Regions from separate parts of the Homo sapiens genome. Here regions 2 and 3 are each reported to be linked to region 1. The links are microRNA targets in miRTarBase. Many come from high-throughput screens and were not tested one by one. Region 1 holds a microRNA gene; each other region holds the end of a gene's coding sequence.

Evidence for each region. The annotated mature microRNA hsa-miR-617 reads AGACUUCCCAUUUGAAGGUGGC and lies in region 1 at 4,955-4,976, opposite strand. An mRNA with a match to its seed (bases 2 to 7 or 8) in the 3' UTR can be bound and repressed. Matches are read on the target gene's strand: a 7mer-m8 pairs with bases 2 to 8, a 7mer-A1 pairs with bases 2 to 7 and ends in A, and an 8mer does both.
Region 2: miRTarBase lists INSYN1 as a target of hsa-miR-617. Seed matches in the 3' UTR shown: 7mer-A1 at 7,443-7,449, 7mer-m8 at 3,662-3,668 and 7mer-A1 at 3,566-3,572.
Region 3: miRTarBase lists MFSD6 as a target of hsa-miR-617. Seed matches in the 3' UTR shown: 8mer at 6,519-6,526.

Annotation. Positions count from the first base shown.
Region 1 is chr12:80,827,639-80,838,090 of GRCh38, forward strand. It overlaps MIR617 (microRNA 617), which reads right to left and starts at 4,991; the gene lies at 4,895-4,991. All of the region lies in intron 4 of LIN7A (lin-7 cell polarity scaffold A), which reads right to left.
Region 2 is chr15:73,732,380-73,742,831 of GRCh38, forward strand. INSYN1 (inhibitory synaptic factor 1) reads right to left here. Exons shown (of 3, transcript NM_001039614.3): 3 at 3,079-8,263. The coding sequence ends at 7,538. Among named protein-coding and RNA genes, the nearest start is that of INSYN1, 16 kb to the right of the region's middle.
Region 3 is chr2:190,498,033-190,508,484 of GRCh38, reverse strand. It overlaps MFSD6 (major facilitator superfamily domain containing 6), which reads right to left. Exons shown (of 8, transcript NM_017694.4): 8 at 6,171-8,470. The coding sequence ends at 8,267. NEMP2 (nuclear envelope integral membrane protein 2) reads left to right here. Exons shown (of 9, transcript NM_001142645.2): 9 at 1-4,147. Among named protein-coding and RNA genes, the nearest start is that of NEMP2, 31 kb to the left of the region's middle.

The sequences.
Region 1 (10,452 bases):
GCTTTTGATTTCAGCATGTGTTTTCATGTTTCTATAATCTCTCAGTTTTATTCCCTCAGTGTAGAATGTCCTTCCTCCACTCTGTTTTAATAACCCCCCACCCATCATTCAAAGCCCATCCCAAACAGTACTTATTCTCTATTATGTCACTTTCTTGCTCAAAATAAATAGCAAACACTTTATGATGGTTTACAAGGACCTTCACTCTTCACTCCCAGCTGGCCTCTATAACCTTATGTCTAATACTCTCCCCATCATTCATATTCAAATCATTCTGGACGTTTTTTTTGTTCTTGCTTATACCTAGTTCATTCCTGCCAGAATTTTGTATGACTAGCTTCTTCACATAAAGTTCTCAGCTACGAGATGCTCAACTCTACTATCAGTTAGGGAGATGCAGATTAAATCTAAAATGAGATCAAAATCATTCACATGCTTAAAAAAAGAATGTATCCCCAAGGATTTGGTGAAATTTATATCTTCATAAAACATAGAAGTATAAATTGATATAGGCTTTTTGAGTCAATTTGGCAATATCTATTAAAATAAAGTATATCCATATCTTCCTATCCTGGCTTGCATATATTAGGATCTACCTGAGAAAAATAGTTACTCATATACATAAAGATTTTCATTCAAGCAGTACTCAAAATAGTGAAACAAAATTAAACAAAAAACCATTTGGTTAACAAACTAAATGTCCATCAACAGGGGAATAGTTAAATGCACCATATATAGAATATTATATAGAAGATTTAAAAAGGTCTATGTACAGATGAGGCAAAATCTCCAAGACATTATTAACCAAGAAAGCAAGTCATAGATAATACGTATATGTAAAAATAGCAGTGCATTTAAGAAAATTACATATAATAATAATAATAGTAGCTTATATTCATTGAGTATTTACTATCAGGTACTGTTTCAAGGGCTTTAAATGTAGCAAAATAGTGACTTCTCATAACAACACTGCAAGTTATGTAATGTTATCATCCCAATTTCATATATGAGGAAACTGAGACACAGAAAGGTTAAGTAAGTTTCCATGGCCACACCGTTAATGGGTAACAAATCATTGTCTGGAGGCTGACCTCTTAATCACAGCCCTGCATTGTCTCATATGTTTGTATTTAAAAATAAATAAATAAGTAAATAAATGTGGGGTGTGTGTGTGTGTGGTGTATGTGTGTGCTTGAATACAAAGAGAAACGTTCAGATGCATGCTCACTACAATGGTGTTTCTACACGTGGAGAGAGAGAGGGGCTGGAACGGATTGAGGAAAACAGTTAAAGGGACTCTTTAAAAAATCTGATTTTAGTCTTTCCACACTGAATTATTTAAAAATTTGCTAAGAATGCATTTACATATTTATTGTATATTTTTAAATACAATAGCCCAGTATCATCCCATAAGGATCATGAGAGGAAAGGTCATTCTAGAACAAACCAAAGAAGGTGGGACAAAGCATAATTTTGTTTAAATAGTACTTTCAGGCAGAGCTTTCAAGTAGTTTGGGCAAAATAAGTCCCCCAAAACAAAAGCAAAAATCCCTACAACTATAATTCTATAATTGCCTGGGTAACTCAGGTGAAATGAAGGGATTTTAGCAAAGTTACCTCAAAATTTACAGATGTAGAAGTATAGTCTGTGGGAGCTTCAAAACCTCAGTCACAATGTAATGCCAATGATATTCTGTTTGAACTATCATGACTGAATGGTTTTTCTCCCGACATCGTTAATTTGCTGAAACCCAAGTTTTCCTTTCCTATATTTCCTCTCAGTTGTTTATTTGTCGGGGCCAGCATATCACTTATACGGCATGGCAGATCATTCATGGTTCAATATATAGGCTATAAATCCATGTTTTCAAGGAATAATGTTCAATGGAAAAATCATAAGGAAGGATTATGAAATACTTCATGTTTAAAATTTTGCTTTTCATCTAATGGCTCCTGAGATTAAAAACAAACAAACAAACTTGCAGTGATCTCAATCTTGATAGATGTGAGATTCCACAGAGAGTAATCAGTTGACCTAGGAATTTTTCTGAAAATGAAATGAGTTGGCTTTGTCTTTCTTCTTTGGTACAATTACTGTTGATCTTATCCCCCTTCCCCAAATAATAATGTGTCATAACAAAGAAACATCAATATTCTCTACATAATAGATCATAATGAGATAGATACTAATGAGATCTGTGTTTCTCTCACTAAATATTAACTTACATCCACATCTGGTGGCCCTGCCTTTAATTCTGGCCACTTCTAAACCACTCTTCACATTGCAATCATAGTAATCATTCCAAAATGCACTCTCGTGCTTAAAATAATTACATGTGCCTGTATTGCAGATACAGGCTGAAGTCTTTCAGCCTAGTGTACCTCACCCTTTGTGATCTGGCCCCTGTGTATATTTTCACCCTCATTTGCTAATCCATGAAGGTCCAAACAGGAGAACATGCAATTTTTTCTTGTCTCTGGGCCCTTCCTTGTGATGTCTCTTTCACCTTCCTCACTGCCTCCGTTCACCTGCTTGCTTAAATCAATGGCTTGCTGCCTTGATTATAAACTAGCAATGATTATAAGCACTAACATTTATTTAGTACTTACTACATGTTCAGGAACTGTGTTATGCCATTTAAACACTAAAATAGAAAAACTAAGTAGCTTCTTATATTATCATCTTTTAGCAATGAGAAAACTAAGGTTCAGATAAGTTAGCAAATTATTCACCAAACTCCACCAATGACATTGAATTTGTGCCCTATAGGGATTTACTGAGAACTAAAGGGCCCAGTGCATTTAGAGTGCTCTGCAGACGCTTGGCTTAGAAGCCCTGGAAGGAAGTATTTTCCATTACTTTTGTTACCAATGTTGTTACTACATTTGGGGGTGCTTGCTTTATTTCTAAACTTAATGTCTGGGGATTTAAAAATTGCCATTTTAACACAATGGCACATATAATTGAGTAGAAGATATATTTTTTAAAAGTTGATTTTTTTTAATTAGAAAAAAACTAAAAATTGAAAATGAAAGTGAATTACTAACACTGAACTCATTTCCTTCTCCCCTCTACTCCAATCCACTCCAGTTTCACTGGTTTTTCGTTGCTTCTCTCGAATGCCAGTGCCCTTCAAACCTTAAAGACTTGGTGTTGACACTTTCCTCTGATGGTCACAGGAGAATGATCTGAATGTTCTTCCCTAGGTGTGGCTCACTCCCTTATCTCCTTTGACCTCCACCTTGAATATCACCCCTTAACTGAGGCTACTCTGACCGGCACCACACTCTCCCTGCCATAGCATCCCCTAGCCTCCTTACGCTGTACTGATTAATTTTCTTAGCACTTGCCATCTCTAACACTATATGGATTTCCTTATTTATTTTGTTTATTGCTTATCTGCCATACTAGAATGTGAACTCCACAAAGGTAAGGACTTTTTTGTCTCTTTTTTTTCATTAAAGAATCCTGACTGCTTCAAATTGTACAATGTAGATGCCTAATAAATGCTTATTGAGTGACTGAGTGAATGACTATTGAAACTGGCCAAGCAATGTTATATAGCCTTGTTTGGCTACACAGGTGCTTTAGATACAAGTTCATGTATATTTTGTCGATTTATTGCCCTATCTAACATCTCTCAAACTAAGGCTTTGGTGGAGTCACTGAGCAGTTAATATATTACTGAAAGCAGATGAATGTGCTTGGATCTAGGCAGAGTAACAAAACAAAGACAGCTAAAGTTAAAAGTCTGACCCAAGGTCTCACATTCCTATAAATAATTGATAATGCATCAGGGGAATTTTAATGAATATATTTGATTTGTTTTATTTACAAAATAGACATACTAAAAGTTGCACATAATTATTAATCCTTTTCTAGAAGAGTAAACAAATTTATTAGAGACCAAGCAGACTGAAAGTGATTGGGCTTCTTTGTGAAACACTGCCAATATATGCAAAATTATATCCAATACAACTGAAGGAAAATATATTTGAAGCAATTACAAATCCTGTCCCATAACATGATGTGTGGTGTGATAACCAACATCATACAACTTTGCATTATCCCTCCTGCCAATTTCATCTAATAAAACACGACTCATGTGAAATGGTGTGTGCCCTAGGTTCCTGTGGTAATTAGCTGTGTCTAAATTGCTATAACATGGGCAATGATATTTAAAGTTGCTCTTACATTGCCTAAGAGTGCATAGCAAAATAATAATTATCATGTAATTTAGATTTTCAAAATGTAAACAGATCATGGCCACAAAAATAAGGGGAATTTCAGGATGAGTGGCTGTGCACTGTCTAGCCTGGTGGCCAGTCTCATTTCAGATCCATTGTAAAACTGAGAGACAGACAGCATTCAGGTACCCTGCAGGTTTTGGTTACAGACTTTACTGAGTGGTCAAATAGATATTGTGCCTTCTAGATTTAGGCAAAAAAGAAGAGTGGTGAGGCTTTGGCATATTTCTGTTCATGACATATTGGCACAATATTTCTACAAATCACTCAAAGCTAAAGCTAAGGCAATTAGGAGTAGTGCATCCATTTCTACTTATGAAAAACTTAACTTGGTGTTTCTAGGATAATTAGATCAAAGTAAGCTCCCTTAGGGTATGATCTACGTTTTCTTTAAACTGTTCCTTTCCCAGTGCCAGACATGGTACCATGGTTAATAAATCTTATTAGCAGTCTGACTGAAGATTTTAAAGTGATATTCTTACAATAACGTTTGCCTGTAGAGACAGATTCAATACCAAATTTAATAATGGCAAGCTGTCAATTGCTTTGCCTTTGTCATCCATGGTAATTGGGATCAACTCTGGTGCTCCTCCACACAGAACATTCAATTGAGATCAAGCCTTGGATGAAATCTCTTTTCCAGAATGCTCCTCATTTATTGAATCAGAAGGAGCCTGGACTTACCATTTGAAGGTGGTAGGAAATGGCCACCTTCAAATGGGAAGTCTAGGCTCCTTATGATGGCTTATGGTAGCTTCCGTGACATGGCTCCAGGCCATCCCTTCAACTCTACTCTTTAGCTACAAACATGTTGATGCTATGATTTGGTAGAAGTCCATTCTATTCATATTTATGGCATAGTGTACAATGTGTGCATTTTTCAGATTTTAATATTGTAGCTACTATATGGTTTGGAACTGTTTTCATGAAAATGAACTAATTTAGTTTAAGATAGTGATTCTCAACCAAGGATGATTTTGCTTGTTAGGGGACAGTTCAAAAGGTCTGGGGACATTTTTTGTTGTGGTGACTGGATGGGGAGGGTGTTACTGGCCAGGATAAACATTCTACAATGCACAGAATGGCCTCCCCCAGAAAGAATTATCCCATTCAAAATATCAGCAATTTCAAGGGTGAGAAATCCTGGTTGACAAATGTAATTGAGTGAAAAGTTTACATAATATAATTTTTAAGTGTTCTACTTCGAAATGCTGTCAGTTTGATAGAGCTCAGTTAATTAAATTTACATCTTGGAAAAGGCAAAACTAAATTAAAACCTATGCCCTTGTTTATGTTCATATGGCTGAGCCATAGACAACACAACCTCCAAGTACTCAGCTGCTCACTCTCACCTGAACCATCTTTTCTGCTGTGTCAACAAGAGGCAAGATCCTTGTCAGAAACCCAAGAGTTCTTGGTAACTCCCTATTCTTCACCTTGCATATCCAGTCAATCACCAGTTCTTGTTTATAGTCCCGTTACATCCAAAGTCATTTTCAAATCTTTTCCTTTCTCTCCAAATTGCCCCTCTTCCAGTTAAGACCTCCACCATGTCCCTCCAGAACTTCTAAGAGTGTCCTGGTTGATCTTCCACCTCCGGCTTTTCCTCCATGCCTTCACACACCCTATGCCCACATGTTGGCAATTGCCAGAATAACCTATAAAAATTCATGTCATTTTGGCAATTTCCTACCACTTTCAAATGTTAAGTCCGGGCTCCTTGTGATGGCTTATGGTGTCTTCCATGATGTGGCTCAAGCCCATCCCTTCAACCCTACTCTTTAGCTACAAACATGTTGTTTCTTATATGTTTCTGTAGATGTTGTCCCTCTGTCTAGAATGCCCTCCATCAACCTATTCATTCTAACATTCCATAGATAACTACTATTAATCCTTTAAAATGCTTCTTATTATATATACCATTTCCTCTACAAAGGCAGAAGGTGTTGTTTGCTTGTTTTTAAATTCTGAATTTTCGCTACACTGTCCACAGTACCAAATGGCAATAACCGGCTAGAATTGTAATAGGGCATTTCTCCTCTAGATTGCCATCTTTCCCTCTTGATTATCTCTGCTCACTTATCTAATCTCCTTCTGGACCCTAAAATAGTCAAATTTAACCACTCCTACTTCCTGGATAGCCTTTTGCAAAACCAAATCTAGTACAATGTCATGTTCCCTTGACTTTCAGAGGTAGAAGCTCAGAGACTGCCCAGAATCCTCAACTCTTCTGATGTCACATTTTACTCGATTTTTAAGTATGTAAGGACTACCACATATATAGTGATTAGTTCAGAATGAAAAATCTATGTTGAAATGGTAGTGCTGGGTGATAAGATAGGTTCAGGCTGATGCTAGATCAAATCTTGTATACTACATATACAGATTTTGACTTCAGGATCTAAAGTCTTATGCTTTGGTTCTTATTCAAATTTATATTCTTAAAGCTTAAGATATGCTATATATTTACACAGTTGGTGATAATAGGCACCTCTGTAAATAGAAAACATGACTTCTCTTGAGAAGTGATTTGGTGTCACTGAAGGGCAAGGTCAATAATTTACAATTCAGAGTAAGGTTGGCTGTGATAAAATTAGCAACTAATGATTTTGTATCTATGAGAGAAGAGAAAGAAACCCAAGTAGGAAAGGCCTATGATCAAATGTGATTCATTTGCAAATTTATTGAAACAGCCCATACCTCCTGGCTGAACTTAGAAAGATGTAGTTCTAATACCACAATTGCTGATACTCATTTCCCATATCTGAGACTCAGCAACCAACATTTGAGTTAAAGTTTGGTTATCTCACATGAACCTGTGAGCAATCACATGTGGCTTGTGACATGTCATCTGATTGCCATATGTATCAGTGTCTTCTGTTTTTGAGAATATAATTAAAAACAGAACAAGATATAAATCCATTATGGAAAATTATATAAACCCTTAGACTTACACTTGGCTTGCATTTCACTAGGTATACTCATGTAGCTGTGGCATATTAACATTCCAACCTTGCTTTAGGCTAGTGCCAACAGTCTGTAGACCAGCATAAATAAGTTAGAAGAATGTTCCTCCCAAGTTAGGATTAAATCGAATCATTGGCTTTTCACTAATGTTTAAAGCAATCACTGGTAATTGGGCTTGGTGAGTTCCACAAAATATAAATGATGCTTTTTTGGACCAGCACAGGATTTCAAGACAAATATTCTATTCATTTGAGATAAACCACACATTTCTCAGCTAGAACAGAAGAAGGACCATTACTTGGTTTACATATTCTGTTTTTGTAAATTAAGGAAAAATGTTGCAATAGGAAACATGGAGAGATGCATCTGGAAGTTTGGTGAAAGGCTGTTTAATAATAATATACAGCAACAATGCTGTGTAATTGTGGAAGCATAAGTCTTATCTTTTAATGCTGTATTTATCATTTCTCTTTTTTATCCTAATTACTATTAGGAAAGGTAGACAGGACAGGTGTTGTTACATCAGTCCTGCAGATATAAAGACACCAAAAATTCCAATGACTTGCCCATAATCAACCCACCAATGACAAGGATCCAATTTCCTCTGAAATTAGAGTATTTAATGGGGGACTTTTATTGTCTCTTGAAGATAAACAAAAAGCAGAGGAGATGACTTAAACTGGGCGGAGAGTCTAACTCTATAGGGAGATAAAATTATAAGAAAGAAAAGACTATTATCTGATTTAAAAGAAAAAATTTATAGTTACTGGGTATTTAAAAGGTATCCAGCGTAATGCCAGACACTCTTACATACTTTCTCTTATTTAATCTTTGGATTAAACCTGTGAGAAAGATATTGCTATTTTTGCTTTACGTATGACAAAATAGAGTCTCAAAGAGTAAATAAACGTATTATGGTTAGAATAACCTTAACTCCTGAGAAACCATAAGAACTTGAATTTGAATGAGTCCCTTTTGAAATGTTGAAAATATCAATTCACAATAAAGTAAAAGTTTGTAATTTTCATTAAATATGATGACAGAAAAAAAGGGAAAATTGCTCTTAAGTTGTTATCATATGCAATATCCTAGTCAAGTGATTTAAGGATATAGAAAGAAAATTTCAATACAAAAAATAATAATAAGCTAACAGAAAAAAAAAGTAGAATACATTTCATTTCATAATGAACAGCCTCAGGATGTATTAGAGACTCTTGGCATATCATCAGATTTCAGAATTGATTTCAGATTCCTAATGCACTTAGAGTAAAATGAAAACTTTTGGGTATCAACCTTAAAACTCCATTGGTTGGCTCCCAATCAGTTCTTCAGCCTCATCTTATCCCACTATGTATACTTTAGTCACTTTGTTCTTTCAGCTGCTCCTACATGGCAAATCATGGACTTCCTTATCTCAAGACCTTCACACAAGCTCTTTCTTATGATAACAGACTCTTCTCCTTAATCTCAGTTTAAATGTCACCCTTCAAAGAGGCCATTTCTAACACTATTAAAACTAGCTCCTGGCATGGTGGCTCAACATCTGTAATCCCAGCACTTTGGAAGGCCAAGGCTGGTGGATTGCTCGAGCTCAGGAGTTTGAGACCAGTTTGGGCAACATAGTGAAAGCCTGTTTCTATCAAAAATACAAAAACTAGCCGGCATGGTGGCATGTGCCTGTGGTCCCAGCCACTCAGGAGGCTGAGGTGGGAGGATTGCTTAGTCTGGGAGGCAGAGTTTGCAGTGAGCCAAGATCACGCCACTGCACTCCAGCCTGGGCCACAGAATGAGACCCTGTCTCAAAAAATAAATAAATAAATATGTATATATATATATTTTAAAAGTAGCTTCTCTTGTTCCATTACATGGCTCCTTGTTTTCTTCTTTCCCCTCTGTAACACTTATCACAGTGTTTAATTATGAGGCCATGTTATATTCTGAAGTATTAATTCGTGTTCTTTGTGAATTTTCCCTCCCATTCTGCTTCCTTCAGCCCACACCTTAGGAGTAAAAAAGGACTGAAAAATATCTGAAGGTCTTTGCTGTGCAGCAGAATGTTTTGGCTGCATGTTTTCACGTACATTTTTTTTTTTTTTCTCATCAAAGACCAGGCAAGATGGGGGGCGGGGAAAGAAGGAAGAGGAGTCTGAATGGCTTTATTGATTGGATAGGCAGAAGCAGAAGGAGAAAAGTCTGAAAGTGAAAAGGGAAGAAAGAACTTGCATTGTCAGAACTAGGAGTAGAGTGGAAAATATTCAGTGTGTGCTGTTTTGAGACTAGAAAACCAACGTGCCCATGCTCTGTGGACAACTGGTTCCATTCCATAGCCCTATACACTTGTAAGCACTCTAGATTTATGATATTTACACATTGTAGAGGACTGGATAATTTCTCAAAGATATTAATATCAGGTCCTATTCCCCAGAACCTGTAAATATTACCTTTTATAGAAAAAAAGGTCTTTTCAGATACAATTAGGTTAAGGATCTTGAAATGAGGCGATTACCCTGCATTATCTCAGTGGGCCCTAAGAACTCACAAGTATCCTTATAGAGGGAGGTGGGAGATTTGGCGCAGAGAAGAAGGTAATAACGTTACCATGGAGATAGAGATTGGAATGAGGTGGCCACAAATCAAAGAATGCTGCAGTCACCAGAAGCTGAAGGGAGCAAGGAACAGATTCCCCAATAGCACCTCTAGAGGGAGCACAGCCCTGTTGATGCCTTGGTTTGGAGCTAGTGAAACTGATTTGGGATTTTTGGCTTCCAGGGCTGTGAGATAATACATTTCTGTTGTTTAAAAACCACCGTGTGTGGTAATTTGTTATAGCAGCCATAGGAAACTAATATACACATAACGGAGTTAAAAAATCCTGTTACTGTGACCAGTGTGAACCTGAACAAAATCACTGGGAGCATTTCCCTTAGGCTGGGATAACTGATGGATATGTTACATTTATATGTATGTATTTATCATCATCATCATCCTCATCATCATCATCATCATCATCATCATCATGTTCTTACTTTCTACCAGATTATAACCCTTTTTTTTTGTTTACCACTCCATATCCAGGACTTAGCTCAGTAGCTGGCACATAATAATTTCTCTACAAATAATTGTTGAATGAAAGAAAAGCATTGCTAAAATAACAGCACAAATAGAAGGAAAACACAAACAATAAATGGTAAAAATAACTATGAGAAAGACTGCACCAGTAACTAAACTGAATAGTCA
Region 2 (10,452 bases), not on the chromosome of region 1:
CTGGCCCAGGTGCTAAGCCCCTCACTGCCCGGGGCCGGCCGGCCGGCGGTTCCCAGTGCGAGTGCGGGGCCCGCGGAGCCCACGCCCGCCCGGAACTCGCGCTGGCCCACAAGCGCCGCGCGGAGTCCTGTTCCCACCCGCGCCTCTCCCTCCACACCTCCCCGCAAGCTGAGGGAGCTGGCTCCGGCCTTGGCCAGCCCAGAAAGGGGCTCCCACAGTGCAGCGGTGGGCTGAAGGGCTCCTCAAGCGCGGCCAGAATGGGCGCCGAGGCCGAGGAGGCACTGAGAGCGAGCGCGGGCTGTGAGGGCTGCCAGCACTACCTCCTTTGGGAAGCTGCTCACACTCAGCCATTTAGCTAAGGAAAAATTCTCCATTTTACAGGGGTCTCCTGGGAAGGCCCCACCACTGGCCATCGTGTGTCAAGGAACCCCACAAAGATCAGGGCCCCTCGGGATCTTTCCACAGCTGCTCCACAGGCAGTGCCTTGCAGTGACACCTGCAACCCCCACCCCATCCTGCTTTCTTGGGGGTGGAGGACAGGTCGGGTGATGCCTGGAGACTGGGTTTCTGTGGCTCTTCTAAGATAGTGGGGGAGGAGAGGACACCAGGGTGGGTCTGCACCATCAGATTTGTTGTCCACAGTGGGAAGTGCCTGACTTTACACATCCCAGCATAATAGGAATGGAGCAGCCTGAACAGGAACTGAGAGCCAAAAGCCTCAGGCAGGTGTGTAAGCTTGAGTGTTCCTGGCAGGGAGTCATGTCTGATCAGCACAGTGTCTGAGCCCTGGATAGCGTCAGCCTGAGGTCACCCTCCAAGACCCCTTGGTCCCCTAGTCTGGCATGGCTGGTACAGGTAAGGTGGGGGTGGGCAGGTGGTGATGGCAGCTGTGCTCGCCCCTCTGGTAGGGGTTCGGGGCAGGCCAATGGAGGAGTCAGGTTGCATCAGAATTCCAGCTAGCTCCCGTGTAACATGTTACAGGAAGGTGCAGCTCCAGCATCCCACCCCTCTGCCCTGTGGGAGAAAGAAAAGGGCACTGCAAATGCATTGCAGGAGGGACGTTTAACCCGCTTGCAAGATCCAATTATCTTCAAGGGCTTAGCATATCTATGTTACTTACCAATGTGCTAATTGTGTGCTGTTCTTATCTATTCATAAGAGTGGGTCCCTATCATGATGGTCTACTGGATAACTGTTGCTGAGCTATCATAAAGCTATTCTCCCAGTATCAGACTAGACAGGATACCCTGGCTTCCTCCCCCACAGTTAAAGAGGATGGAGTGGCTCTGAGTGGGGCTCTGGGGACTCAAAAGTCCCTTGCAGAAGGTGCTCTTATCTTTTCCATTTTGCACCAATGTGCACCTCTACTTTAACAAGGGCTCTCTCCACCATCTCCTATATGGTTCCCCCAGCCACCTTTGTGAAGTTCCACCAGTATCTCATGTCCTTCATTCCCACTTCTAGGTGACCCAGCTCTATTCCATTTCAAGTGAAATTCCATGTGAAATCCTCCCTCCTTCCAGAAGCCTTTTCCTTTTTTTTTTTTTTTTTTTTAAATGGAGTTTTGCTCTGTCGCCAGGCTGGAGTGCAGTGGTGCAATCTCAGCTCACTGCAACCTCCACCTCCTGGGTTCAAGTGATTTTCCTGCCTCTGCCTCCTGAGTAGCTGGGACTACAGGCTCCCGCCACAATACCCGGCTAATTTTTTGTATTTTTAGTAGAGACAGGGTTTCACCATGTTGGCCAGGATGGTCTCCATCTCTTGACCTCATGATCCACCCGCCTCAGCCTCCCAAAGTGGTGGGATTACAGGCGTGAGCCACTGTACCCGGCCCCCAGAAGCCTTTTCTAGATACTCCAGCCCCACCCATTGTCAGGTAAGCCTAGACCAGAAAGGGCAGTGATATTTACTGGGCTTAGGGCAGGCTAGTCTTGGCTCTGCCAGAGAAATGGAAAGGGGGAAGGATGCTTTGGACTTGGAGCTGTTTTTCTGCTAGTCACCCAGTCAGTGCCCCAGACCCACCAGAAACTAGGGGGTGGTTCTGAAAGTCTGGCCTAAAGCGGAGTTGAAGTCAGGGCCCAAACCCTGGTGAGCACTATGTAAAGTGCCTAACAATCACATAGTATGCTATACATTGTAGCACTTATATATAGTGTAAATAATAATGGCAATGTCAGTCCCCAGAGCAGCCAATTTCTGGCTGTGTAACTTAGAATGAATTCCTTATTTGTTCATCAGTTGCCTCCCCTGACCTGTAAAATAAAAATTGTGGTTAATTCATTTACTCAACAAATAATTATTGAGCAACATATTCTGTTCTAGGTACAACTAAATCTGTCATTTAGTATTTGTTAAAAGATGTAGCACGGTACCTGACATATATATACTAGGTTGTCAATAAACATCAGTTTTCTTACACAAGTCTCAGCTGTGGAATGGGAGATGGGTGGGTGTGGGAAGCGCCGGAACAGAGAAACAGAAAGTCAGGAGTGGACAGGGTGGAGGGCTGGTCTTGTTGCCTCTGGAATTCCCAGCCCCACTACACCCACTTTCCCTTCTTGTTGACAAGTCCTCATTAAGGACAGGGGATGGTGCTGGGGTCTCTGAATAGTTTACCCTCCTTTCTGTCCCTTGATCCCATTAGACCACTTCTGTGGATGACATCATCTGTCCCTCATCTATAAAATACAGACAGTGATGCCTCCTCATTCTTAGACACCAAAGACATGGCAATGTGCCCACCCTATTAATGGAGTGTCAGGTTGGGGACCCCCACCCTTCCCAGGACATCTCCCAGAGTGGTCTCCTCACCAAGCTGACTTGCCTCCCACTTCTGGTTCCTTACCCTGGCATCCCAGGCTAGACCCAGCAGCAGCTATGGCTCCCTTAGTGCTGAAACCCCACACCCTTCAGTTTTGACTTTCCCCAGCCCCAAGGCACACCAGACCAGACCCTCACAGAGGAGTTGTGTATACCTATGTGTGCAAGCACCATGACACCTGGTACACAGGAGGTCTGCAATAAAAGCTGATTGAATGAATGCATAGTGGATACCCTTCTGCAAATGGGGCTCGTTTATTCATTCAACAAACATTTATTGAACCCATAATCCATTTGGTGCCAGTCTCCGAGTCAGGGGTGGTGACATTCAGGTTAACAGTAACTAAGTTCTCCAAAGACTGAGGCATGTTCACATGTTTCCTCACCCCAACACTCCCCTCACCCCGAAGACCCGCCTGGCTCTCAGACGACCCAGCCCCGACCCTCACCTCCAGTGACCAGGCCACCCACTCCAGGCATTTTAACTGCAGTGGATGTTTGCAGTAGATGATGCTAAGTCACTGTGTTTGTGGTTGAATCCTGGTTCCATAGCCCATCCTGTGTTTCCTTAGGCAAGTTACTTCACTTCCCAGAGCCTCAGTTTCCTCATCTGGAAGCTACTTAGACATAAGTAAGATTGCTTATCTCATACGTGCTGTGAGGAGTAAATGAGATAAGACATACACTTAGAACAATGCCCAGTGCCTAGCACGTGCCCAGTGGACATGAGTTATTCATCATGCTATGACTTCTCTCCATCACCAGGTTCCAGCTCCCTTCTGCCCCTCCACAGCACCACTCAGCACAAGCCTGTGCACACAGTAGGTGGTCAGTGGAATAGGACTTCCCGGAAGCAGAGAGATCTGATGGAACATCCTGGGTAAAGAAACTCAAAAACTGGCAAAGGTTTGGAGGCAGGGAAGAGCAGCAAAGGGCTGTACCTGGAAGGTCTGGAGGAAGGACCCAAGGGATGGCTGTGTCTACCCCAAGGACAGGGAGCTCACTACCCAGAAGCAGCCCATGCCATGACTCAGCAGTGTTGAAAGTCAGAATTCTCTCTATCCCTAGCTGGCCACATTTTGTGTTTCAAGTCTGAAGAAGCCACTGGGGCCAGGTGCGGTGGCTCACGCCTGTAATCCCATCACTTTGGGAGGCCAAGGCAGGTGGATCATCGGAGGTCAGGAGTTCAAAGATGAGGCTGGCCAACATAGTGAAACTCCATCTCTAAGAAAATACAAAAATTAACCCGGGCATGATGGTGGGTGCCTGTAATCCCAGCTACTTGGGAGGCTGAGGCAGGAGAATCGCTTGAACCCAGGAGGCAGAGGTTGCAGTGAGCTGAGATCACGCCATTGCTCTCCAGCCTGGGAGATGGAGCAAGACTCCATCTCAAAAAAACAAAACAAAAAAAAATTGGCCAGGCGTAGTGGCCCACGCCTGTAATCCCAGTGCTTTGCGAGGCCAAGGTGGGCAGATCACAAAGTCAAGAGATCAAGACCATCCTGGCCATGTGGTGAAACCCCATCTCTACTAAAAATACAAAACTTAGTAGCTGGGGTGGTGGCGGGTGCCTGTAGTCCAAGCTACTCAGGTGGCTGAGACAGGAGAATTGTTTGAACCTGGGAGGTGGAAGTTGCAGTGAGCTGAAATCGCACCATTGCACTCCAGCCTGGATGATAGAGGGAGACTCCATCTAAAAAAAAACAAAACAAAACAAAAACAAGAAAAAGGAAGCCACAGGGATCCCACTCCACTGTCAGGAGGTCCAGACTGGGTGTAGCAAAATTGTGAAGTCAGCCAAGTACTACCTATATCCCACTTCCCCCTCCTCCAGGATATACTCCCACCACTGCCCTATTTGGGGGCAAATGGCCAGGCAGGGGAGCAGGGGGCGACTGATGGACATTAGCCACTACTACAGAGTCACATAGAGCCAGTGTGGGGTGCAGGATCCCATGGCTGTGTCAGAGACCCCTAGCTCTGGCCCTCAGTTTCTTCCTCTGTGAAATGCGAACTATTCCATAGGTTTCTTTTCCCTGACTGTTGAAAAGATGAGAAACTGTGAGCCTGAAAGTGCTCTTGCCATGACAGATGAAATGCAAGCCTCAGAGGGAGAACTGTTATGTCCATTCTTAGCACCAGGTAGGCCCATTCCTGGTCGGGGACTGCCCCCTTCTCACTCTCAGGGTGGGGCGGAATGCAGCTGGCCCCTCTCCCCAGAGGAGCCCCTGGCACTCATCCTGTGAACCAGAGCCCTATCGCTGATCAGCACCAAATGGCTGAGGATTTCCTGGGGCTGATAGAGGGGCTCAGACCCTTGGTTCTCAGACGTGAGCTGGGAAGAGCTGGCCATGGCCTGCGCCATCCCTGGATTTCCACACTGGTGGCTGCACCCTGGCTAACTCTTTAGGGCTCCAATCTCACCATGAGCTTGAGGAATAAGCTCTACATTGCAGAGCCTCCTAGGTCTGCTCAGTCTTATCCAGATCATATCCCCTGCAGCTGCTCCAGACCGGCCTGTACAATCTCACTGTATGTCCACAGCCGGGGCTGGATAGCACCTCTTCAGGCAGGAGCAGTGGGTGCTGCCAGGCCTGCTGCTCAGGCCCCCTCCGGACAGACGCTGGGGGGCTGTAAACCTGCCTTAATTGAAATATGCAACAGGGAGGCCCCCAAGGAGCGATGTCTTTGCTGTGCTGCCAGTCCCACCTCCCTGCTCTGAGCGAGGGGCTGTGAATCAAGCTGCAGTCAACTTCTGACCTCGAGCTACTGCGAGGGACCAAGCAATGGAGTGTTTGTGACCCAGGGGTGGCTCCCAGTTGGATGGAGGTGTCTTCTTTGGCCATCCCACTCAAAGCCCCTGTGCCCTGGAAATCACTGGACATCTGGGTTGAGGCCACACTGACCACAAGGCATGTCCAGTGCCTTCAGTTTGTCAAGTGCTTTCACAGTCACCATCTCGTCGGAGCTCCACAGCAGCTGGTGAGGTAGGTGAAGACTACCAGACCCATTATACAGAGGAGGTAGATAGGCTCAGAGAGGCAAACGGACTTGCCAAGGTCACACAGCTGCTAGCTAGCAGAGCCAGGCACAGCCTGGAAATCACTAATTCTTGGGGGCAGAGTAGCACAGGCTTTGTGGCTTTGGGGCAGGTACTGAACTACTTTGAACCTCAGTCATCTCATTTGAAAAATGGGGATAGGTGGGGGCACAGTGGCTCACGCCTGTAATCCCGGGACTTTGGGAGGCTGAGGCTGACGAATCACTTGAGGTCAGGAGTTCAGACCAGCCTGCCCAACATGGTGAAACCCCGTCTCTACTAAAAATACAAAAATTAGCTAGGCGTGGTGACGCATGCCTGTAGTCCCAGTTGCTCTGGAGGCTGAAGTGGGAGAATTGCTTGAACCTGGCAGGTGGAGGTTGCAGTGAGCCAAGATCGCCCCACTGCACTCCAGCCTGGGTGACAGAGCGAGACTCCATCTCAAAAATAAAAAAAATAAAAATAAAAAAAGAAAGAAAGAAAAAGAAAAATGGGGTAATAATACTTCCTGTCTCATCAGGTTATTGTGGTGATTAAATGAGATGCTGCTATAAAAAGTATTCGGCATAGAAGTAGCATAGAGACCTGCTCAATAAATGTGAGCAATATAATTGTCATTATTATCCCAAGGATATTCAGCTGCTGTCCCTGTGCTGGCCATGCCCCAGATGAAGCCCTGGTACCTCTAGGCTGTAACCTCATCTTTGTTCAGGACCTGCTGAGATGGGCTCAGGGGCTGGGTGTGGAGACATCGGGACGGAGTGGGGACCACTGGGCTCCTTTCCAAGGCTGCCCACCTGGTGAAGGTGGCCAGGAGCCTGTCTACGGCCCTAATTTTTAGCCCCATGGAAGTGGCTGCCTACTTCCTCGCACAGATCTCAGGTCTGCTTAGGGCCACGCCAGGACTGGCTGAGGCTTTGCCCTGAGGTTTTGGTCTTGGTCTCAGAATCAGGCTGAGAATGGGAGCTGAAAGGATTGGGGGTGGTCCAGACCCTCCAATCAAACCCCTGCCCAGCCCAGGCGATCCTTCAGGCTCTGTGGATGCCCAGCATCCCAGCACGGAGGCCTGCGCCATGGGAGCAGCTTGCCATTCCCCTATGTCCCAGGCAACCCTAAGATGGAAGGGGGTGAGGCAGGACTGTGTATAGCCGAGTAAGTCTGCCTTGGAGTAGAAGGATGGTGGGTGCAAGTGACGCAGGGCCTGGCCAGACTGATGCCACCCCCAGGCCCTGAGTCCTGCAGTCTCCAGACCACCCCGACTGTGAACCCTGGCCTAAAGGGACACCACTCCCTTTAGAGCCCGCCTCCTGCAGGGGAGTCCCCTCTAGGACATGGCCCTGGCCATCAGCCAGACTCCACCACAGAGTTCAGGGGCTAGCAAAAGGAGGATCAGACCTCCCATCAGTTTTACATACTTTCAGATACCCCCTTCAGGAGCCCCGCAATGAGAACGGAGGAAGGGCAGTCCTGCCCACACCTCCTGGGACCTAGGAGGCCAATGGGCATCTTCATGTCTAAGAGGAGCTCTGTGAAAGCTTTGGGGCCTGTGGGGCCAGATCCTTAGCATTTTTAAATTTTATTATGACTTCATTTGTTTAAATATATATATATATATATATATATATATATTTATTTATAGCTCTATGTGCCCACCGCCCCCGGCCCCCTCCCCGGCCCCTAGTTTTTCCCCCTGGCTTTCTGTCTAGTGGCTGTGTAGGGCAGAACCGTCTGCGTGCTCTTGTCTGACACTGTCTGGGTGCTGCTGTTCCTCGTGACCCTTCGAGTCTGTTCAGGGGCCAAGGTAGAGCCTGAGTGGCGGCTGGTCAGTGGAGAGCGCCGTGACTTGTAGGGGGCTGGGGAGGGCTTGTGGGGGCCTGCATGGGCCTCTGTATGGGCAGGCTCAGGGGGCAAGCCCACTTCTTCCTCCTCCACCTCCTGCTCACCGTCCCCCTCCTCATCGTCACAGCACAGAGCATGGTAGAGCACTTTGTCACTGAACCGCACCCTCTCCCGTGTCCCTGGGGTCCGCTGGGGCAGCTGGCTCTTCACCGTGGGGCCAGCACCAAAGGCCTCCTCACTGGAGGAGTCTGGGGTCTCCACTCGTGGCCCATTGGGGATGGGCGTGCCACCATTCATGAGGCGGTAGTCAGGGCCAGCCCCTGGCCGAGTCGACTCGGGACCATCCACGGAGTCCGAGGGGGTAGAGACGTCCAGGAAGGAGCAGAACTCCCAGCTGTCTGAGAGGATATCGGCTGTCATGAAGTCCAGGTGGCCCAGGTCAAAGGGGCCACCCATGCCCGCCTTGTCACTGCTAGAGGTGCTGCTCACAGTGGCCGTGGTCCAGTCGTCCGGCTCCAGTTCAAAGTCGAAGTCCGAGGTTAGCTTATCGATCTGGCTCACCACCTGACCAGGGAAGGGGAGAGGAGATGAGAGGGGCCAGGTGGGTCCCTGCATCAGCCAGGTGTGAGTGTGTCTCCACCCCATCCCTGTAGACCCCTGGCTGATGAGCGTACTGGACAGGGGAGAGCCTGTAGGATGGTGACTGGCCTGGAGGTCACAGGTTGGTTTGCCCTGTGGAGGGCCCAAATCAGATCAGGCTGGACAGAGCTTGTTCCGGCCCTTCCCAAAGGTCTGTTTACCACTGTTCAGTGCCCTGGGGGAGAGGGAACTGCTTTCCAGCCCTGCACACCATCCATTCACTCACCCCTGTCTCTCAAACACAGCAGCTGCTCTGGGGGCAGCCCTGGTGATCAGGGATGAATCTTCCTTAGTTTGAGAGGGGGCCACTTCAGAGGGGCTGAGGGCCTCCAGCAAGCCCATTCCACAAAGAGCTGAGCAGCCCATGCACCCTCAGAGAGGAAATGATGTGGGTGATCACAAGGAAGACCCTGTGTGGGCTTTCTAAAGCATCCTGGACCAGTCCTTGCAGCTGACTGGTGACTGTCGCCCCTGGGTCTCCACCATCCCTCACGGCAAGAACACCAGGTGTACAGCACTGGCTGGGTCACCCCACCCCCATCTCCATCTCCCGGAGCCTCCTCATTCCTTCCCCTTCCCTGCCCACTGACAAGTGGAGATCAATCCTGGCTTGTTGAGAGAAGGAATAAAGCAAGCATTATTTGATAAGCAATAAAGAAGCCATCTATTCTGGGCCCAGAGCTGCTTGTTCAATGCACTCAGGGGGCAGCTCAGCTGTGGAGGTCACTCCACCCTGGCCTGCCTCGCATAAAGTGAAGCCCTTGGCTTCTATACAGAAGGCCCTGGCTTGGGACACTCCCTTGCCTGGGTGGCCACTGTCAGCACATAAATCAGGGAGGAAGACAGTGAGGGAAAGAGGGAGATCCAGTCAGAGACACAGGGATGGGACAGGGCAAGAGAAGGGAGAGAGAAGATTCCAACCAAAAACAAAACAGAAAAACAATGAAAACAAAGCAGCGAGGCCAAGAGTCAGAGTAACAGAGACCAAGAGATCCACAGTGAGTCATCCAGATCAGAATCCAGCCCCCAGCACCTCTCTGGCGCCCTTCAACCTGGGGTCAGAGCAGGCAATTAATTAATTAACTCATTAAGTCCTTAATTCAACAAACAGTTGCTAAGGGCTGCTGCTGTCCAGGGATGTGCTAGTATTTGGCAAGGAGTGGGGGTAGTGAGTGCCCCAAAGTGAGAGGAAAGCAAGGACAAAAGTGATGGCCAGAGTGGCTTGGGCCAGTGGGAAGACTACTTGATCAGGAGTCAGGGGCTGGATGCAGGAGACCTGGTCAACCATTTTTCCTCTGTAGGTCTCAGTTGCCCAGTCTGTAAGCGAAGAGGGTGGGTGAACTAGTTTATTTCCAAGGTTCCTTCCATGTCTGAGATTCTAGGACTCTGTTTATAGGAATGACTCTGAGAGGCTGCTTGGGTGCTGATGCCTAGGGATGGCCCCTCAACCATTGCCCAGGCCAGGAGTGGGGAAACCACTTGGCTGAGGCCTCCAGAAGAGCTGGAGGAATCAGGACATCTGGATTCCAGACTTAGCTTTGACATTGTTCTGTGTGTCTTTTGGAAGATCACAGAACCTCTCTGGACCTCAACCTCATTCACCTCCAAGTGGGTATGACAATCCCAGACCACCAAGTGAGTATGACAATCCCAGCCAACCTTATGAGAGCTTCATGAAGGACAGTGAGAAGGGCAGCAAAAGGACTCTGCAAAGCACTGGGGATGAAAATGACACCACCTCCCATCTCTGAGCACCTACCATGCACCATGCTTTCGAGTGCTCACCTCCACCCATGAGATCATTATCTCCTGTGTCTACAGATGAGGAGTCTTGGGCACTAGTCCCTGGAAAGCTGAGAATCTCCCCCTGCGGCCCCCTGCAAAACTGCACACCATCATGAAGTGCTGCTGTGACTGCTGGGCTTGGGCAGGCGGCAGGGATAGGGCCCTACCCTCCAATCTGGCTACTTCTTCTTGTGCTTCTCCCAGGATGATGCCTTCCTGCCCCAAAGGAACCTCAGAGAAACTCCTATCTCCCAGAAGCCCTTGCTCAACCCAAGCTCCACCCAAGGGCTGGTGGGAGCACTGGCCTAGCGTAGGGACACTCAGACTTG
Region 3 (10,452 bases), not on the chromosome of region 1:
GCTCATGAGAGGTTAAATAACTTGTGCAAGACCACACTGAGATGCAGCACTGGTAGAAATCCAGCCCTGATGTATCCTTTGACTCAGGTAGACAAGATCTTCAGGTGCAAGCTTAGGAGCCATCTCCCTACAGCCATGGGCCTCACAATGTTGGTGGCTTTACTTTTTATTTTTCAATAATGGCCAACTTGCTATTTAACTGTGATAAAGGGAAATGTTTCTGAAGACATTTTAAAGTTTTTTATACATACGTAAGATTTTTATATACATACGTAAGGATTAGATACTATGATTACTTTTTTTGTATTTTGAAATTGAAGGCACTTAAGCTCTTGTGATATTTTGAATTGACTGATCCATTTAAAAAATTGTTTAGCTATAGGTGTTTGTAACAATTTCTTATAAAATGATTTTTTTTCTTGATTCATGATATTAAACTCCAGATTGAAATGAGGGGCTATGAGCTTTGACCCTGAGGAAAGAAGGCCAAAACATAGATCTGAGGAAAGATTTGAACATGGCAAGACAATCTCAGGGTTAAGATGTTGCTAAGTTGATTCTGAGAATCAAAATCAGGCTTTTTTTCCTGTGATGGGATCATAAAAATAATCTTTTTATCAGGACAAAGGTTATGGGCGAAGGATAGACAGAATTTTGGCACTGCTGCTTTCCTGAGCCAAATTAAGTAGTTTTTCTAAATCATGAAAAAAGAGCATGACTATCCATCTGGAACTTCCTAGATTGATTTTCAAATGATAGTTCCTCTTTGAAGTATTTACAGGTCTGTTTTTGCCAGACATCTTTTCATACTGGGAACTTTTTTTTTTGTAATATCCACTAAAGTTAATCTGCCTTTATATAGACTTGGATTTTTAAAAAACCAAAGGATATATTTTCCATTCAGATTTATGGTAACTATTTTATGAGTAAATAGAAGTTTGAATATTTTTCTTATGGTTTAATCTGTTTTTTTAAATTATATTTATTGGTGATATAAATGTATCAGATGTATCAGTGCCTGTGCTCACCAAGTTCGTCTCCTAAGAAGCAGTTTGTGTGCTACAACGTATGCGTATGAGTAAATAACACATGAACAATCTGCTGGGGCTGCCAGGTACATCCCAGCCAGGACAGCCGCTGGGCCAGGGGGAAGAGGTACTGCTGAGGGAAGGAAGCAGCTCTTCATGGGCAGCTAGCCAGGTGTAACCATCACAGTAAAAACAGCCAAAGAGAGAAGAACAACAGCAGTCCTTGAGGATATTGTTTTCCATGTTTATTTTTAGAGGAAATCATAGGTTTGTCAGTTTCTGCTTTGTGACTACTGTGAGAAGCTAAACAATTAGAAGCATTACTTGTGATATTTTTAGTGTATTTATGTTGTTTTCATTTGATTTGGGGGTGTATTATAGTACTGATCACAATTCTAATCCCCATCAAGCAATGTACAGATAACTCTTCCAAGAAATGTTTCCCTCCTTTCTTTCCTCCCTTCCCTTCTCTTTCTCCCTCACCTCCTGTCTCCTCTCCTCCTCCCTTTTTAAAGGCCTTTGAACAGTTTAAACGACCACTCAATAAAATGGCTCTGCCCTTCACAGGTGGTTGGAAGTTGGCTTTGTGCCTCACACACCATAGGTGTATAATTATGGAGCCTAACAGATCCCTTTGTTATTTTACTGCTTATGCTTGGTGCCTACAAAAGCTTACTGTTGTTAGCAAGTTGAACTCTTTGACACCAGATGTGTGGGTGAGATATAGTGTAGGTGGCTATGCTTAAACAATCGTATCATTCAAGTGTTATTTTTAAAAGGTTTTAAAACACATTTTACATATCACAAAAAATGCTTTGTGAATTAGTTGTATGGTTTGCCAGTAATACCTAGGGCTGAATTACAGGGGAATGTCCATCTGACATGAAGGACAATATTTCAATTTATGACTTTTTAAAAAAATCTGGAAATTTCATATATTTAGATTTTAAGAGGGTTTGGAATAGATGATGGATTACATAAAAATATCTAAATATGTGGAGGAATTAAGATCCTGAAATGATGTCAACTAAAGAAATGCTCTCTTACATTATGCTATGTGTGATTGTTTCCCAGAGTGAGAGATGTACAATTTTATAAATTAGCTTTTCTTGTCCAACTGAAAGCAAGATAGACAACATAATGGATGTGGAAGTTTGAAGACACCTGCAGGAAGACAGAGAGGTACTTTTAGGTGACAACAGGAGCAAGCTGCCTTCTGAGAGAGCCTGCTGGGTGGCATGACATTGAAGAGTGAACTATTTGGGTGTGACTGTTAGCCTTATTGACTTAGAACCCTGCTTTTTGTTATTGCACCATAAGACCTGTCTCTTGTTAGTCAATTCATATAGTTGGTACAGGTAGTGATTCACAACCAAAAATATAACTAGCATAAGGATAAAAACACTTGACTTGATATGACCAGCAGATTCTCTCTCAGAAGACAGATTTACAAGGGGTCAAATTATAATAAGGTGGCTACTTGGTGAACTGAAACAAAACAAAGGGAGCTTGTTATATAATTCACATGGTTAATGTCATGAGGCCAAAGAGTTTGATGCAGATGCCACCCCCCACCCCAGTGGGGCTAGCCTTGTTAATGGGATGAGATACCAGGTCTGTTGACAAAGACCACGCCTTCCTTTATGCAGGTCCTGCCAACTTTTTCCTCTCTGTGACTGCTGTTTTTCTAATCTTCATTATTGACAAACATCCCACCCCCTCTGATGGGCATATTTTTACTCAGATGTGTTAAAATCTTTAGTCTTTCTCTGGCCTAGGAGTTGGATTATCTTTTAAAGGTAACTGTATTTTTTTTGTTATGATCCCTGAATGTGAAACCTTAATAGGTCACCAGAGATTTGAAATGAATACTATACTTATCTAATATAAATCTTGGAAGATACAGTTAGTGGGTAGCTTCTCTATTATTTAAATAATTTGAGGCATCTGTTTTTTTAGATTTGGTCGTTTTTCCAAAAAAGAAAGACTGATTGAAAAGAGAAAGGGAAAGAATACCAACATTGACTAGAGATCCATCAGGCACTATATGAGGCACCTTCGATACCTCTTAATTTGCACCTCATGACCACTCTGTGATATGTTTTGGTATTTTCATTTTACAGATGAGGAAAGACCCAGAGAAGGTAGGAGAAAGTTGCTGAAGGACACATATAGCTAAAGTGGTAGAATCAGAATTCAAGCCCCCATATGTCTGCTTCCAGGGCTCATATTCTACTTCCTTTATTTATTACCATCTTTTTAAGAAAGTGAAGGAAATGACCCCATGGATAAGGCATTCAAGAGGTGACTACATCTGCTGATGTTATACACATACCAGTCATTTGTGCCCCGCAGCAATGGACACTGTAGTCTGCGGCTCTTGTCAGTGCTTCTCAGACTGTCTGGGGTGATGGACCAGTTTCCCTCTAGTTCATCACTAGTAATACTTTTGTAAGATACACTAAATTATTAGAAAAATGAAATAATCTTTGAAAGAAAAGACATACAGAATATAAGCACGATGATCATGTCATGACAATGTCAACTTGCCATACATATTTTGAAATGTCTAATTTCTATGTTGTCACATACCAGCAGTAGTTTGACAGCACCAGTCATTGAGCACACTTTGAGTAGCACTGGTCTACATGTTATTTTTCTAAGATGCCAGTGATCTTTTCAGGAAACAAAAAAAATCCGACCTTTTTTCAAATGTAAGTTTACAATTTAAAAGAATAGCATCCTACACTGACTATTGGAGAGAGTATGGTATATAATTTGTTAAATGATTATAAAATTGTTTACTTTTGTTGACACCTTTAAGAAGAAAAAGAAAAATGAAAATTATGAAACTTATAACCTCTCTCAGCAGACTTTTGCACTTTATGGAATTGTCACCATCATCACTTTTTTCCATCCTCTTCAACTTAAGTTTTGCTTAATTTTGTCTCTTAACTAACTCATATCCCCAACCACTTAATGTTTACAATGCATGTTGGAATTGAATGCCTTACTGTACAGCTTACTAGATATAGGTAAATATGTATAGTATGGCACTGTAGATTGGGAGAATGGAATATGATTATAGATTTAAATGGCAATAAAATAATAGAACTAGACCCTGGTTGGGGAAATGAGACAGCGCTCCTCCTGCCCCGGGCTCTTTGCTGCACAACAATGGCAGTATTTATGGAGCACACACTGTATGTCAGATAACTCATTTTAAACATCAACCTGTTACATACCTACTGTAATCACTTCCGTTTTACAGAGGTGGGTCCTGAGGCCCAGAGATGTTCTATGTGTGTGTAAGTTCTCACTGGCAGAGCTGGGACTCAAATGCAAACAGTGTGACTCCAGGGCGCACACTCCTAACCCCAACATTGTAAGGTCCTTGGGTTGCCATCTAAAAACTGGGACTTTCCTGGAGCCACAGTGGGGGACAAGTGGTCCTATATTAGCTGCTTGAAGCAGATGGCAGCTGGTTGAGAGTTAGGTACACAGCTGGACTGGCACTTAGCCGGACTGGCTCACTTTCCCCCCATGTTAGACATCAGCAAGTTTCCAGTTACTCCCTTATAAGAAGCCACAGTTTGTCCTGGCATAGTGTAAATTACTTTCTGAGATCTGACAAACCACTCCCCCTTTCACCCCTTTTCTGTCCCCACCTAGGCACCAGCCTCTCTCCCAACTGCCCCATGGTTTGGAATTCTTAAGCCAGATATTCTCAAGGCTTTGCTAAACAAGCCCAGGAGTGGTTTGGGGCTTCAGAAGTAGCCTTTGTCTTGTCTCCATGCTCCAAAGGGCTGAAGAACTTCCAAATGGAAAATCACCTCTTTCTTCCCTACAGTCACTGTCAAAGCATACCTTCATTTTCATAGAATCAACATAACCTTAAGCTCTAACCTCTCACACTGAAGCTGAGGAAACAGGCCCAGAGATCTCCCGAAAGGATCTCTTCCTGTATACCCGTGCTGTCCAGTATGGTAGCCTTGAGCCACGTGTGGCTATTTAAAATTAATTAGAAACCTAATTCCCCAGAAAATTAGCCACATGTCAGTTGTTTAATAGCCACATATGGCTTATGGTTACCATCCTGGACAGTGTAAATAGAGAACTTCCCATCTTCCCAGTAAGTCCTACCGGACAGTACAGAGCTGTGGGTGTGTCTGCTTTCCCTTCCTGATTTCCATGGCCCTGGCCAGAGTCCCTACCAACCTCTGGGTTTCCTGTGCAGTTATCAGTCCAGCCAACTCACCTGCAGAGTGTAAAGGGTCTGGTGTACCTACATTTCACAAAGCATCAGGAATTTGAAGCATTTCTAGGAATCTAGGAATATCTAGAAATCCTAAATGGAAATACAACCACACACATACACATATCAGGCATGTATGGTAATGGTTCAGGCTGGGCTGCTTTATGGCTTCCTCTGCCATAACAGATGCAGGGAATGGCCTCCCTGCCTCCTGGGGTGGGGTAAGGTGCTAAGCGGACCAGGGCTTTGACATTAGGAAGATTTGAGTTTGAATCCTGGCTTTGTGACCTTGATCTCATAACTTAAACTGTTAGCTTCAGAATTCTCTTGTTTAAAATGGGGATAGTGATAGGAACACCTCCAGTTTTTGTTAAGGGCAAAATGATAATCTCATCAGCACACTACAAGCACCCAATATCCACGGATGTGGTTCCCTTTTCCTAGATTCCCTGCTGAACTCCAAATTGGCAGAGAGGAATATTGCCTAAGTAATGGTCTCAGTACCTCAGCAGTACTGGAAGGAATTGCCAATTAGAGGGAAGCTATTAGCCAGCTATCCACTTCATGTGACCCATGGCAGGATTAATAAGCCAGTAAAGCAGGGTTGCTCTTCCTGTGAATTCCTTAACACTTTTCATGAGGTTTACTGCCTGCTGGACAATGTATGTATTATAATCTATTCCTAAAACTTGAGGAATAGTTCAATAATTAGCAGTTAACCACTTTGGATCCACACAAGCTCAGCACTCGGTAATTTACTGTTTCTACAACCATAGGAGAAAGAGTAGGAAGTAAGTCATTAAGGCAGTGATTACCAGCCTGGGCTCTGTGACACCCCTGTGTGTGTTGAGGGATCTCAAGAGGGGTTACAAAATCTCAAATCAAAATGTAATTTGAATTCACTTTAATATTTTTTAAGGTAGCATATGGCACTTTGGGGACAGGAAGAAAAAGTCACAAAGTCCACAAACCCATGAAGGTGTCAGCTCACAAGGCTGGAAATGACTGCATTATCGATTCTGCTGTCACAGTAAATGTTCCATAACAAAGGCATGTTGAATTTGGTCTCATTCATTAGAGTATAGGACTTTTGTTTGGTCACATCTTTATCATTTAAGAAACATTTAAAAATGGTATTCATTTTTATTTCAACATGTCAACTGTGCATTTCCAAAACAGCAGGCTTTTCAAAGGAATAAATCAGAACTGTAAACACAAGATACAGTACAAGTTTTTGACTTCCTACAGTCAGTTTCACAAATCCACATACTGTACATTCATAGGTGAGGTTAAGCCTGTCACCCATTTCTTTATTTCTATAATTACACAAGCATAATAAATACATCTGATTTTAAAGGTCACTTAAAATGAGTCATAATTTACAGTACAGTACGTTTCAGTTCAAGTGCAAAAAATAACTATTTGCTGAATTCTATTTCTTTCAGTTATTTTATTTTTAAGCTGTGTTTTATTGTGAAGCGAGACATCCAAGTGTAGAATTTCTTATCCCAAATGCAGTATTGGGCAGAACTATGGTGTCATGGAGAAGCCCTCACTTTACAATTGATCCTGTCTAATCAGGGTCAGAGGGTAAGGTGAGTTGCTCATTTCGACTGTTCTTTTCTTTCCTCTCTCTCCTGTGCTCATCCACAGCTATTATAAATTATATAATTCACCTTTATTCAGCTAAAACAGTTTTCCCTTTTCCACACTCCCCCCAGGTTTCCTGTTAACCTCTGCTTTGATTTTTAGTGGCAAGCTTTACGTGCGATCCACCCAGCCATTGTTCTGGCTGCAGTTGTAACGTTTGCAGTTGCATACATTACATTGTCCAGTGTCTGACTGTGTCTTCATGAGAACGAATATACTGAGATTTTCTTTCTTTAGTCATTGGAAAGTATAGTTGCTACTTATTGCCATCCTTCCCATTCATGGTTTCCTATTTACCACCTTTTCCTCACCAAAAACAAAACAAAACTGACCCAATATGTAATTTCTAAAAATTGTATCCTTCCCCCAGGCACTTAAATCTTATACTGTGATTTGTAACTAGTACTGCTTATTTAAGGAACTCTTAGGAATTCAGTGATTTTTGTGTGTTTCATTCCCTCAGCTAATTAGAGCCTGAATTACTATAAGATAGTAAATAGCGAGAGAGGCTATTTACAGTATCAATATATTTAGTAAACTCTTGTCTATCAAAACACAGGATACTGAGTTGGTTGGTTGATTTGAAATAATCGCTTGTTTCTGTTTTTTTTCTCAAAGCCCATTTAAAACAAAAGGCATTTTTAAGCTCGGCTTAGCTTGCAGTAGTTAATAATAGCTTCTGTTGCTCAAAGAATTATTTCCATTATATGCCATACACATATAAAAATATATTTGCTAAAGATATGTAAAGTTTCTGATGAAACTTTTAACTTCATTTTTTAACTTTAACTTTTAACTTTATTTTTAACAAAAGCACATGTGCTACTTTTATCTGGTTACTTTTTAAATATATCTTGTAATTTTTTAAACGGTTCTCTCCAAGAAAAAAGAAAGTATAGATGAATTCTATCTCTTCCCAGTTTGTGTTAGGAACCAAATAAGAATAAATAATCAGAAGAGGGAAATTATATCCACATTCACCTCGAAACACTTTCATTCCCTCCACTTACTTAGTGTAACTGCCGGTTTCAACTCTTACTGCACTGGCAGAGAAATTCTATCATCCTTAACCTAACCAAGCAAAGAACTGAAAGTCCTCATTGAACTCCATTTCCCTGTTGTAATTCCAATGAGATTACGAAAGTTTACCTTTTCCTGCCAATATGTACTGTAGCTCCTGTGTGTGTGTTTCCATGTTAATGAGTTTAGATATTTAGAAGCATATGCAGTGCTGTGCTCCTCCAGGGGAGGCATATCCTGGCTGGGGGGCCTCACCCTGTGTCCTGGCTGAGGAGCCTGATTCCATGCAGGGTGTGAGATGAGCAGGATGCCCTCAGTGTCCTCCCGCGGCCAGCTGAGCCTGCTGCTCTTCACTCTCCTCTGTGCACGGGTCCACACTGGGGTGAGCGGGGCTGGTCTGCGTCTGAGATGCTGCTGCGTCAGGGGATGGCTGGTTTCTAGATGGGTCAGAGTGAGTCTCACATGGGACAGGCTGGGCTCTACCAGCAGGAGAATTTTCCCTATTCTCATTGGTCCCCTGGAGGTAAAAAACAGGAGATGCCCCATGATCAGTGATAGCAAATAAATCCAACTTTTTATATATGCTTTCAAGTAAGACAGGAAACATGGGGAGATCATCCGGAAGTGCCCATTTCAGGGACCAAGTAATAGAGGAATAAGGATAGAATGTCTTACCTTTCATCTCCTTTCCTATGTGCAACTGCCAGAGCCGCATGAAAAACACAAACACTATAAGCAGACGTGTCTTGTGGAAAAAGGAACATTACTACCAAAATGTCTGTTAGTACTTGGTAAACAGTTTACATCAGCAAATATTTACTGAGCCCCCCAAGCCATGTGGCAAGTCGCTGGGCAAGCACTATGGAATAACTGAAACTCAGGCCGCTTGCTAAGACCACAGAATCCAAGAGCCAGAAGACACTTTGTCTAACAGGAGGTAAATAAGGGGTTCTTATCCTTGGAGGCAGAGCTGGGAAAGAATGTCCTGTAATTAAGAGTCCTGATATATATTTGGTATTTCAAAATGTGCACCAAAAGTTAGATAAGACAGAACATCCACATAAAGAAGTGAATGTAAACAAGCACTTGTGTAACCAACTGTAAATAACCATGAGTAGAACATCACCAGCAGCAATTTCCATAAATGCCATATTGGTTGTACAAATAAAAAAAAATTTAAATGGATTCTCCCCCAAATTAGTACCCATCACTTTTTGGCTGAACACCCAAATAAAAATGTTCATTTCTGTGATTCTACAATGAAAGAAAAAGAAACTTAGTATAATGACTTCTAAGAATAACTACAGCATACCTGCCAGTTTTTATTAATCCTAACATACCAGAAACATTTTATTTATTTATTTATTATTGTTATTATAATTTTGAGACGGAGTCTCACTCTGTCGCCTAGGCCGGAGTGCAGTGGCGTGACCTTGGCTCACTGCAACCTCCTCCTGCTGGGTTCAAGCAATTCTCTGCCTCAGCCTTCCATAGTAGCTGGGATTACAGGCACCCGCCACCATGCCCAGCTAATTTTTATATTTTTAGTAGAGACGGGGTTTCACCATCTTGGCCAGGCTGGTCTTGAACTCCTGACCTCGTGATCCACCCACCTCGGCCTCCCAAAGTGCTTGGATTACAGGCATAAGCCACCATGCCCAGCCCAGAAAAAAATTTATTAATCCTAACATACCAGAAAAAAAGCGCCACATCAAAAATTTTATGTGGCTTCTGTGAAAATGAGGATGAGTACACAAAGTAATGAAAATATTGCTACTCAAGCAGCAGATATTAAAATCATCCTTTCTCCTGTTTAGTCTTCTTGCTTTAAGGTATTAAAATCCTCCATATGCATCTCCCACCACAATATCTGGTTCTTGACTGAGCAGAGTAATGATGTGAGTTTATTATCTTGATAAATTAATAAATAGGATCATGCATGGACTAGCATGCATATGGTTATCAGTAAAGAACCAGATTTGGTTAAAATTTCACAAAGATTTTATGTTAGCTTACAAAGTGAGATTAATTAACAGTTCAACAAATTTTCTGAAAGGGGAATTACTCAAATGACCCTTATTTTTAAATCTTTCCCCTTTATTTTTATGTGTCCTCTGAAGCTACTCCAGACAAAGCTGACGTGACTTATCAAATAAAAGGGAGTGATTATCATGAGATGGGGGAACTGAGCCTATTTCTTTGGCTAAATTGTTTATAGAAGTTACACTCATTTTCCAAAGTCGGGATACACCTGTACAATTATCCACACTTTTATCAACATGCTTTAACTTTACTCAGGAAAGATCACTCCTCTGGGGACAAGAAAAATCACACTTTTAGACTTATTTTTCAGGTGAGGCCACCTGCATAACCATAATTCCACTGAGTTAGGTGTCCTATCAGACCCATACAGTGGCTCAGATTAATTAATTCAACAAATATTTATTGTGGTCCTATAATATAATGCCCCCACTAGAATTTTGGAATTACAGAGACAAC